Regions from separate parts of the Homo sapiens genome. Here regions 1 and 2 are each reported to be linked to region 3. Evidence: microRNA targets listed by miRTarBase, many of them from high-throughput screens and not tested one by one. Region 3 holds a microRNA gene; each other region holds the end of a gene's coding sequence.

Region 1 (3,000 bases), not on the chromosome of region 3:
AGTGAGGACTATGGCTGCATGTCCTCTGCTTGCCCGGCTGCAGAGCAGAGATGTGCAGCCCTCTGGTCAGCTGGTCCAGGCTGGTCCCCGCCGGTCCCCTTCCAGTCCAGCCACCAAGAGTCCACTTGTCCCGGGCTTCCACCTGGCTGACAGGAAGAATTTCTGAGAGCTGGATGTGCATGCCCTGTGGACGAAGGTACAGCTCGCCTGCCTGCCCCAATCCCAGCCCCGACAATCACATGCAGCTGACTCGGACACTGGCCTTGGGAACAATGTTCGAGAGAACACTTGCCCCTTGACTGTAGGAGCCAGAAGGGGACCCAGGTGTGCATAGCTCTCTGTAGACATTTTTACCCAAACCTGTTGGTAAAGTGCCCATCTGGTGCTCAAGAGAGCCTGGGGGTCTAACAGGGAGCCCGGCTGCCTCACCTGGCCACAGCCTCCACACCAGATCTCCACATTGTCTTGATCCAGACCAGCTCTGTGATCAGAAGGAAATTGGGTCCAGTGTAGGAGAGAGCTGGTCCTGGGCCTGGCAGGCAAGAGTGTGGGCATCCTTTCCTGGCCTTTCTCCACTCTCCCTCAAGCCTGTGCTCAGGTTGCCTTGAATGTGGACTCTGGAAGAGCCAGGGGCCCAGAATGCCGGGGGAGGCTTCTGAGTGGCACTCATGGAACACCGTCCCTCTGCCAGCCATAGGCCCTGCCTCCAGTGTCAGGGAATGGAGGCTGGGCTGCGAGAGTGTTGCTGCCCCCTGTGTCATTCTTCTAATCCAATGTAGAAATTGTACGTAATGTATTTAAATCAACGCAAATGTATGAATAACAAATACAGTTCTGACCTTTTTTGTCCAGTTTCTTTGGGGGAAGGAAGACAAAGAAGGTAGGAACGGAATTTTGAGGGCAAAGAAACCTGTGTTTCCATGGAATTGCTGAGACGTGGCTCCTGGGGCTATTTCTCCCTAATAAAGGATGATCCAGGTCCTCATTTCCAAAGTCCCAATGCTCTGAAAACCAAAAGTATTTTCATAACCCATTTGAAACCAAACCTGACCTGAACTTACACTGATAGGAAGCTATGGGTAATTATGATGTGTTCCTTTTAGTGTGATTCTTTGTTGCAGAAATGTCAATATATTTTATGACATGGTTCCCTACTAGGGATTATACAGTATTTGCTGACTACTTCCTAAGAGCCAAAAATAAAAAATCTGAATTCCAAAATAATCTAGTGCCAAGGGCTTGGGATAAGAAATGTGGACCTACAGGCTGGGTGCAGTGACTCACACCAGTAATCCCAGCACTTTGGGAGGCTGAGGTGGGTGAATTGCTTGAGGTCAGGAGTTTGAGACCAGCCTGGCCAACATGGCGAAACCTCGTCTCTACTAAAAATACAAAAATTAGCTGGGTGTGGTGGCACACGCCTGTAATCCCAGCTACTTGGGAGGCTGAGGCAGGAGAATCACTTGAACCCGGGAGTTGGAGGTTGCACTGAGCCGAGATTGCACCACTGCATTCCAGCCTGGAGTAAGACTTTGTCTCTCAGTAAATAAAAATAAATAAATAAATAAATAAACAATAAAATAAAAAAGAGGACCTACCTGACTCAAGGTAGTAGTGGTTCCTCCTCTTGGCCACCAGAGGGCAGCCCTGCCCTGTGTACATCACTGCCCCACTTCAAACCCTGAATAATCAAGCATATAGGGTGGGTGGAGAGGGAGAAGAAAGCTAATAAGCACAGAGTATGCCTCTCTTGAGGTGGAGCCAGAACTGTGGGAAAAACCCTGCCTTCAAGGGTTTCCAGGCCATGGGAAGCCTAGGATATAACGCAGGCAACTTCAGAATCATCAGTCCACCTTGGGATGGTCAGCCCATAAGGATGAAGAAACCAAATGAGGATCTGGCACCACTAGTTTGACTACAGATTAAGCCAGCCCAAGGCCTCAGCCTACTGTGCTGGGCTGACCATGACAGTCTTCCCCCTTCTCCTGATCCTATGGATCAGGACTGCTGCAGAGACTCCCCTCTTTACTCCCGATCCAACAGACTCTGGAAAAGGAGGCTGTGGTCCAGGGGCTCAGCATGGGGGTGAAAAAGGAGAGGGAGGTGAAAAGGAGAGAGGAGGCCAGCCCTGATTTTTCCTTCCTGGGGACACTCTTGCCCCTCCCACTCTGTTTCATTTCCTCCCCTTCTGTGACAGACTCACACAGCTCTTGATGCAAATGTTTTTATTTGCCACTTAAACTACAGTTTCCCTGTGCTATCCTGATGGTGTGGGGGTGTGGAACAGGCTGCTGGAACCATGGTTTACAGTAGTAGCAGGTAGATGATTAGTAGCATGAGTGGTGAAATGCTGCATCTAAGTGCCTGTCACTTTGCTCCCAGGGGAATATCATGCAGCCCAGGAATAGTGTTAGACTGGGAAGGACTGTGGCAGGAACAGTCACTGTCTCTCCTCATTTTGGTGAGGAATGGGTCCCACATAATGGAGAGCTCAACAGAAGCATCCAGTCTTGTTCTGAATGGAGCAGGTCAGTGGCAGCAGCCTCTTGCTTTCATTTACCCCTTTGGGCTGCTTGCCTAAAGTCTCTCTTCCTTCACCTCCCCAGGCCTTTTGGCAAGAGGGAAGACACTGCCATTCCTGGCTCTTTCCCTGGATCAGTGTCTGATCTGGTGGAGGTAGCTTGTGGGGCCTGACTTCCTCCAGTTCCGGCGGATCCTGGCACTTTTCTTCCTAGAGTGCAGATACTGCTCACTGGAGGCTGTCTCTGTGGCACTCTGTGGGTTGGCCAGTGCAGAGTGGGGCTCCAGGATTCTGCAGAGAACAAGTGTATGATTAGCCAACATCAATAGGAAGAATGGAATGGGGACTTCAAGAGATTTCGTCATGGTGGACCATAAAACATATGATTTGGAGCAAAATGAGAGCGGGGCTCTGCTCTGGTCTTTCCCCCTCTGAGAACTGTCTGACTAGACAAAGTTTACAGATTTCTCTGCAGTAGA
Region 2 (3,000 bases), not on the chromosome of region 3:
GCAGTGCCCATGGTGAAGGTCTGATTTCACAGACAGAACACCATGGCCAGGGTCCTCTGTGAAGGTGATGCCATCATTCCTCTTTCTTGCCTGCCACTGAGGATTGTCAGGCTCTGACCCCTCCTACAATGACTACCCACCTCTTCGAAATCATTTTCCAACTATGACTCATTTTGTTTACATTAATTGATTTGGTCATCTCTTAGAATTAGTTTTGGATCCTGAAGACATACTAAAAATATGAAGCAGGGTAATAAATACCTTACAATTATCTGGCAAGCCGTTTAAAAGAGCAGGGATGATGGGAAAAGGAGAACGAAAAATCGGTTTACTGTAAGGTATGGTGAAGACTGAATTACACATAGTTCTCCTGAAAATGAGAAGCTATGTTTTCCAACATCTGAATAAATGTACAAGTCCAAATATCAGGAAACAGAATTTCCAGTGCAAATTTTATATACAGCATTATTACCAAAAGCATATAGCAGACATTCCATAAAATAACATTTTCCAAATTAATTATGCATACATATACATCTGCTAATTGAATGACACTGGTAGATACATCTTCATTAAGATGTGAGTTTTATGCTTGTTACTGCATATTTTCAATTATGAATTAAGGGCAAGAATCACCGTCTTCCTGTGAATACATTCCCATAATTTAAGAATTCCACTAAGCTACATTCTGTCTACCAGTTTGTAAGCAAATGTCTCTACAGACCTTTCAAGTATTTATAGTTGGTGCACAGTAACTCGACACTTATTTTGTATAATGTTGCTCAACCGAATGTGGGATACTATAATTATAGCATAATTATTCATAGTTACAGTAAAACTCTAAACCATTTTATTTAGAATATTTCAGCAGTGAACAGAACCTACATGAAAGTGTGCCAAAATAATTTGTGATTGTTTACTGAAATTTATGAGACTTGTAATAGGCTCTGTCTGAACACATATGAAAAATGTAGATAGTGATAGTTTCTGTATATGGGCTGGCTTACAGCTTCCCTACATTCATATTTATCTATGAGTTCTGAAAAATTGGTAATAGAGTATGATTTTTTCAATTGCAGTAAAATATACATAATGTAAAATTTATCATTTTAACTATTTTTAAATATACAGTTGCAGTGGCATTAAGTACACTCACACTGTTGTGCAACCATCCTCCCCATCCACCTCCAGAACTTTCTCATCACCCCAATCAGAAACTTTGTATCCATTATGCACTAACTACCCATTCTCCATCCCCACAGGGTGGCTTATTTCACTTCGCATAATGTACTCAAGGTTCATCCATGTCACCGCATATGTCAGAATTTCCTTCCTGCGGAAGGCTGGTACTATTCCACTGCATGCACGGAACACAATTCCTGCATCCATTCATGGGTGAATGGGATGACACTTGGGCTGCTTCTACCTTTTGGCTACTGTAAATAATGGTGTTATAAACGCTGGTGTACAAATATCTGTTCAAGTCCCTGCTTTCAATTCTTTTGGATCTATAGCCAGAGGTGGAATCGCTGAATCATAGGGTAATTCTATGTTGAATTTTGTGACGAACCTCCATAGCGTTTTCCAACAGCAGCTGAACCATTTTACGTTCCCACAAGCAATGCACAAACTTCCAATTTATCCACCTCTAAATAGCTGATTTTTAAGAAGAAAAATTTGAATTAAAATCTTGTAATATGATTTCTGGACTTGTTTCTTTTCATCTCTCTTCTCTTTGTCACTTGCTTTTATCACAAACCATAGAATTTATGATGCAAGACTTAGTTTGATTAGAAACCCTAATTCCAAGAGGTCTGCTGAGGAAGAGAGACAGAGAAAGTTAAAAGTCATAAAAGTTCATTGAGAGTGTATGTTGCTACAATAAAGAACAACTGGGGGGAGGGGAGTACTGTCATATGACATGGGATCAGAGGGCAGCTTCCTCCCTGAAATCTTAACGTCATGCTACATTCCTCAGCGTGCAAAGGCAAATTCAACTCAGAAGCTGAGAAGACAAAAACAAGCTTTGATAATAGTCAACTAAAGGAAAGTACATACAAAATGAAGAAGGAAAAATGAGTTTTGTCCTTCAGATAGAGGCTGAGGAAAATGTAGATAATGTGCACCAACAGTTTCTGTGGCCGCTTCATGGAGAGGTAATCAAACATTTAGGATTATTTTTCCTGACATATTCTTCAGTCTGCTGTATAAACTGAATGATGATAATTTGGTTTACATATCATATGCATTTGTTTAGATGAAATAAAGAAATATTTACAGGATTGGAAATTAAGTAAAACATTCAATGGGCTAGAATTAGAATCATTATTTTAAAATTAGAAATAAAAAACTTCTTTAATTAACATAAAAATATGTTATGCCTGTTATGACACTTCACAAGATACTCATGTAGACACTAAAGCTCTAGTGCTCCTTGATTTGTTTATAAAATTGTTTTTAAAAAGAATATTCCACATATATATTTATCAGTTTCATATGAAAATATACTCTCCATAAAGCATAACAATAGTTCGTATTTTATAAAATACAGTAATATAAATTTGATGAAACACATGGATTTTTTTAATAAAATCCAAATTTCTTAATAAGGACAGATTAAAATAATTTAGTTAAATTTCACCAGAATTAGTTCAAAACAGAATTTCAGAATTACTCTCTGAAAATGAAGGAATATCATATGACCATCTTTCAGAGTTATTTCAAAATTATTCATATAAGATTTTGATTAGTTTAGCTACTACATGCACGTTGAGACTATTTCCAAGTAGGCGATAACGCTGTTTCACTGTTATCTTCTCAGGAAATCCTAAAAAGACAAAGAACAATTTAAAGAAATCATTTGTAATCACAATTTCCAGAGATGAAAGGATGTATCCTTTAGTAAGGGCACAGCGGTCATTTCATAAGTAAATCACTAAGGTCTCCATGAAGTTTTATTAACAAAAGAGAATTTGGAGCCAAAAATATTCTATAACATTA
Region 3 (3,232 bases):
GATGTTCCTCCTGTTGTCACAGGGGCTGCGCTTTCTGTGCTATGATTTGTAGTATCCCAGGGGATGTTACTCCTACCATACAAATTGGGTACACTTTGTTATATTATTCGTAATATCCTAGAGTGATGTTACCCTTCATATCACGGGGGTGTTCCTCCTGTGATGTTATTCTTCACATTCTAGGAAGATGTGAACCCCTAATATCACAGAGCGTGTACAATCTGTGAAGTTATTCATAATAGTTTTGGGGGATGTTACTCCTAATGTCACACTTGGTGTATAAACCGTGATATGATTTGTCAAGCTTTTTTGGATATGTTAGTCCTAATCTCACAGGGGCTGTACACCCCGTGATATTATTCATAATATCTTAAAGAAATATTACCACTAATATCACAGGTGGTGTACACCCTGTGGTATTATTCCCGATGTTGTAGGGTGATGTTACTCCTAATGTTACAGATGGTATTCACATTCTGATAATACTCGTCATACCCTAAAGGGATGTTACTACTGATGTCACAATGCACGTACACAATCTGATATTATTTCTTATATCCTCGGGCAATGTTGCTTCTAATGTCACATGGGGTGTACACTTTTTGATTTTATTCGTCATATTTTAGAAAGATGTTACTCCTAATGTCACAGAGGGTGTACGCCCTGTGAAGTTATTCATAATAATTTTGGAGGCTGGGACTCCTAATGTCACCCGTGGTGTACAAACAGTGATATTATTCGTAATATTTTATGGAAATGTTACTCCAAATGTCGCAGGGGCCTTACACCTTGTAATATTATTCATCATAACCTAATGAAATGTTACCTCTAATGTCACAGGGGGTGTACACCGTATGATATGGTGCCCAATATTGTAGGGGGATGTTACTCCTAATATTACAGGGGGCGTTCACACTGTGATAATATTCGTAATATCCTAAATGGATGTTAATGCTAGTGACACGACGCGTGTACATCCTCTGTATTTGTTCGTTATATCCTCGGGGGAGGTTTCTCCTACTGTCACATGGGGTGTACTCTCTGTGATATTATTCAGAATATCCTAGGTGGATGTTACTCCTCGTGTCACAGGGGCTGTGCATTCATTTTGTGATGTTATTCACAATGTCCTAGAAGGATGTTACTCCTCAGGTCACAGGGGATGTACACCCTGTGATATTATTCATACTATCCTAGGGGATGTTACTCCAAATGTCACAGAAGGTGTACACTCTGTGATATTACTTGCAATGTGCCAGGGAAATGTACTCCTAATGTCACAGGGCATGTGCACCATGTGTGCACAGCCCCTGTGATGTTATTTGTAATATTCTTGAGGGATGTTAATCCTAATATTCCATATGCTGTTAACCATGTGTGAACACCTTTGTGGTATTATTCCTAACATACTAGAAAGATGTAACTCCTAACATCACGTGGGGTATAGGCCATGTGCGTACACCTTCTGTGATATTATTCATAACATCGTAGGGAGATGCTACTCCTAATTTTACAAGGTGCGTACATTATGTGTGTACACCCCCTCTGATGGTATTCGTAATATTCTAGGGGAATGTTGCTGCTAATGTCACAGGGAGAGTACACCATGTGTATGCAACCCTGGTAATATTATTTCTAATATCTTGGGGGGGTGTTGCTCCTAATGTCACCTGGAGTGTACAGCATGTGTGTACACCTTCTGTGATATTCATAAATCACAGAAAAAGATTACGCCTAATGTAACAGGATGTGTACACCGTGTGCATCAACCGCCTTTGATATTATTCGTAATATACTAGGGGGCTGTGACTTTGAATGTCACAAAGAGTGTACAAAATGTCACAGGGTGTGTATGCCTCATGATATGATTCCTGATATCCAGAAGGATGTTACTCCTAAGGTCACGGGGGTGCACACACTTCGATAATATTTGTAGTCTTATAGGGAGATTTTACTGTAAATCTCACAGTGGGTGTACACTATGTACACTATGTGTAGACTGTGATATTATTTGTAATATCTCAGATACTACAGAGTTATAGCTCTCCGTGTTATATTAGAATTATATCTAAGACAGTACAAATAATACCACAGTGGGTGTACCTCATGTGTGTACACCCTGTGATATTATTTGTAATATCCATGGTAAACATTACATCTAATATCACAGAGAGTGTTCTCCCTTTGATATTTCTCATACTCTCATAGGGAGATATTGCTTTTAATGTCGCAGTGGGTGTACACCATGCGTGTACATTCTGTGATACACCTTATATCCTAGGGAGATATCTCTCCGAATATCAGTGTGTGTACGCCTTGTGATATTCTTCATATCCTAGAAGGATGTTACTCCTAATAAGACAGAGGGCGTACACCCAGTGATGTTCTTTGTAATATCCTAGGGAGATGTTACTCCTAATGTCACACGGGGTGTACACCCATGATATTATTCCTAATATTCTAGGGGGATGTTACTTTTAAAGTCACAGGGGGCGTACACCCTGTGAGGTTGTTCGTAATATCCTAAGAAGATGTTGCTCTTAATGTCACATGGGGTGTACACCCTGTGATATTACTCGGAATATCTTATGGGGATGCTACTCCTAACGTCACAGGCTGTGTACACCCTGTGATGCTATTCGGAATAGCCACAGAGATGTTACTTTTGATGTCACAGACAGGGTCCACCCTTTGATTTTTTTATCATCTTAGGGAGATATGACTTCAAATATCACAGTGGGTGTACACCCACTGTGATGTTATTCGGAATACCCTAGGGAGATATAACTTTTAATATCACCGTGGGCGTACATACTATTTGTGTACACCTACTGTGATATTATTCCTAATATCCTAAAAATAAATAGGACTCCTAATATCACAGTTGGTGTACACACTGTGATATGAGTCGTAATATTCCAACAGGATGTTACTCCTCAGGTCACAGGTGGTTAATACCCTGGGACAGTATTCCTCATATTCCAGGGCGCTGATACTCCTAAAGTCACAGGGTGTGTACCCCCTGTGATATTATTCCTCCTATTCAAGGGGGATGTTACTCCTAATGTCACAGGGATGTACACCCTGTGATATTATTCATAGTATACCAGAGGGATATTAGTACGAATGTCACAATGCGTGTACATCTTGGCATATCATTCGTATTATCCTAATGTCACAGGGGGTGTGTTCCCTGTGACATTATTCCTAATATCCTAGACGGCTATTTCTC

The links. The annotated mature microRNA hsa-miR-5692a reads CAAAUAAUACCACAGUGGGUGU and lies in region 3 at 2,080-2,101, shown strand. An mRNA with a match to its seed (bases 2 to 7 or 8) in the 3' UTR can be bound and repressed. Matches are read on the target gene's strand: a 7mer-m8 pairs with bases 2 to 8, a 7mer-A1 pairs with bases 2 to 7 and ends in A, and an 8mer does both.
Region 1: miRTarBase lists AVPI1 as a target of hsa-miR-5692a. The part of its 3' UTR that is shown has no 7-base or 8-base seed match.
Region 2: the mRNA of TRDMT1 is a reported target of hsa-miR-5692a. Seed matches in the 3' UTR shown: 7mer-m8 at 2,620-2,626, 8mer at 1,440-1,447 and 7mer-m8 at 900-906.

Annotation. Positions count from the first base shown.
Region 1 is chr10:97,675,214-97,678,213 of GRCh38, forward strand. AVPI1 (arginine vasopressin induced 1) reads right to left here. Exons shown (of 3, transcript NM_021732.3): 3 at 2,211-2,812. The coding sequence ends at 2,656. It overlaps PI4K2A (phosphatidylinositol 4-kinase type 2 alpha), which reads left to right. Exons shown (of 9, transcript NM_018425.4): 9 at 1-1,221. Among named protein-coding and RNA genes, the nearest start is that of AVPI1, 11 kb to the right of the region's middle. RefSeq lists enhancers at 565-1,064, 1,882-1,951.
Region 2 is chr10:17,146,314-17,149,313 of GRCh38, forward strand. It overlaps TRDMT1 (tRNA aspartic acid methyltransferase 1), which reads right to left. Exons shown (of 11, transcript NM_004412.7): 11 at 1-2,827. The coding sequence ends at 2,727. Among named protein-coding and RNA genes, the nearest start is that of CUBN, 18 kb to the left of the region's middle.
Region 3 is chr7:97,961,586-97,964,817 of GRCh38, forward strand. It overlaps MIR5692A1 (microRNA 5692a-1), which reads left to right and starts at 2,073; the gene lies at 2,073-2,141. The region is part of intron 1 of CZ1P-ASNS (CZ1P-ASNS readthrough); the gene reads right to left. MIR5692C2 (microRNA 5692c-2) reads right to left here and starts at 2,896; the gene lies at 2,820-2,896.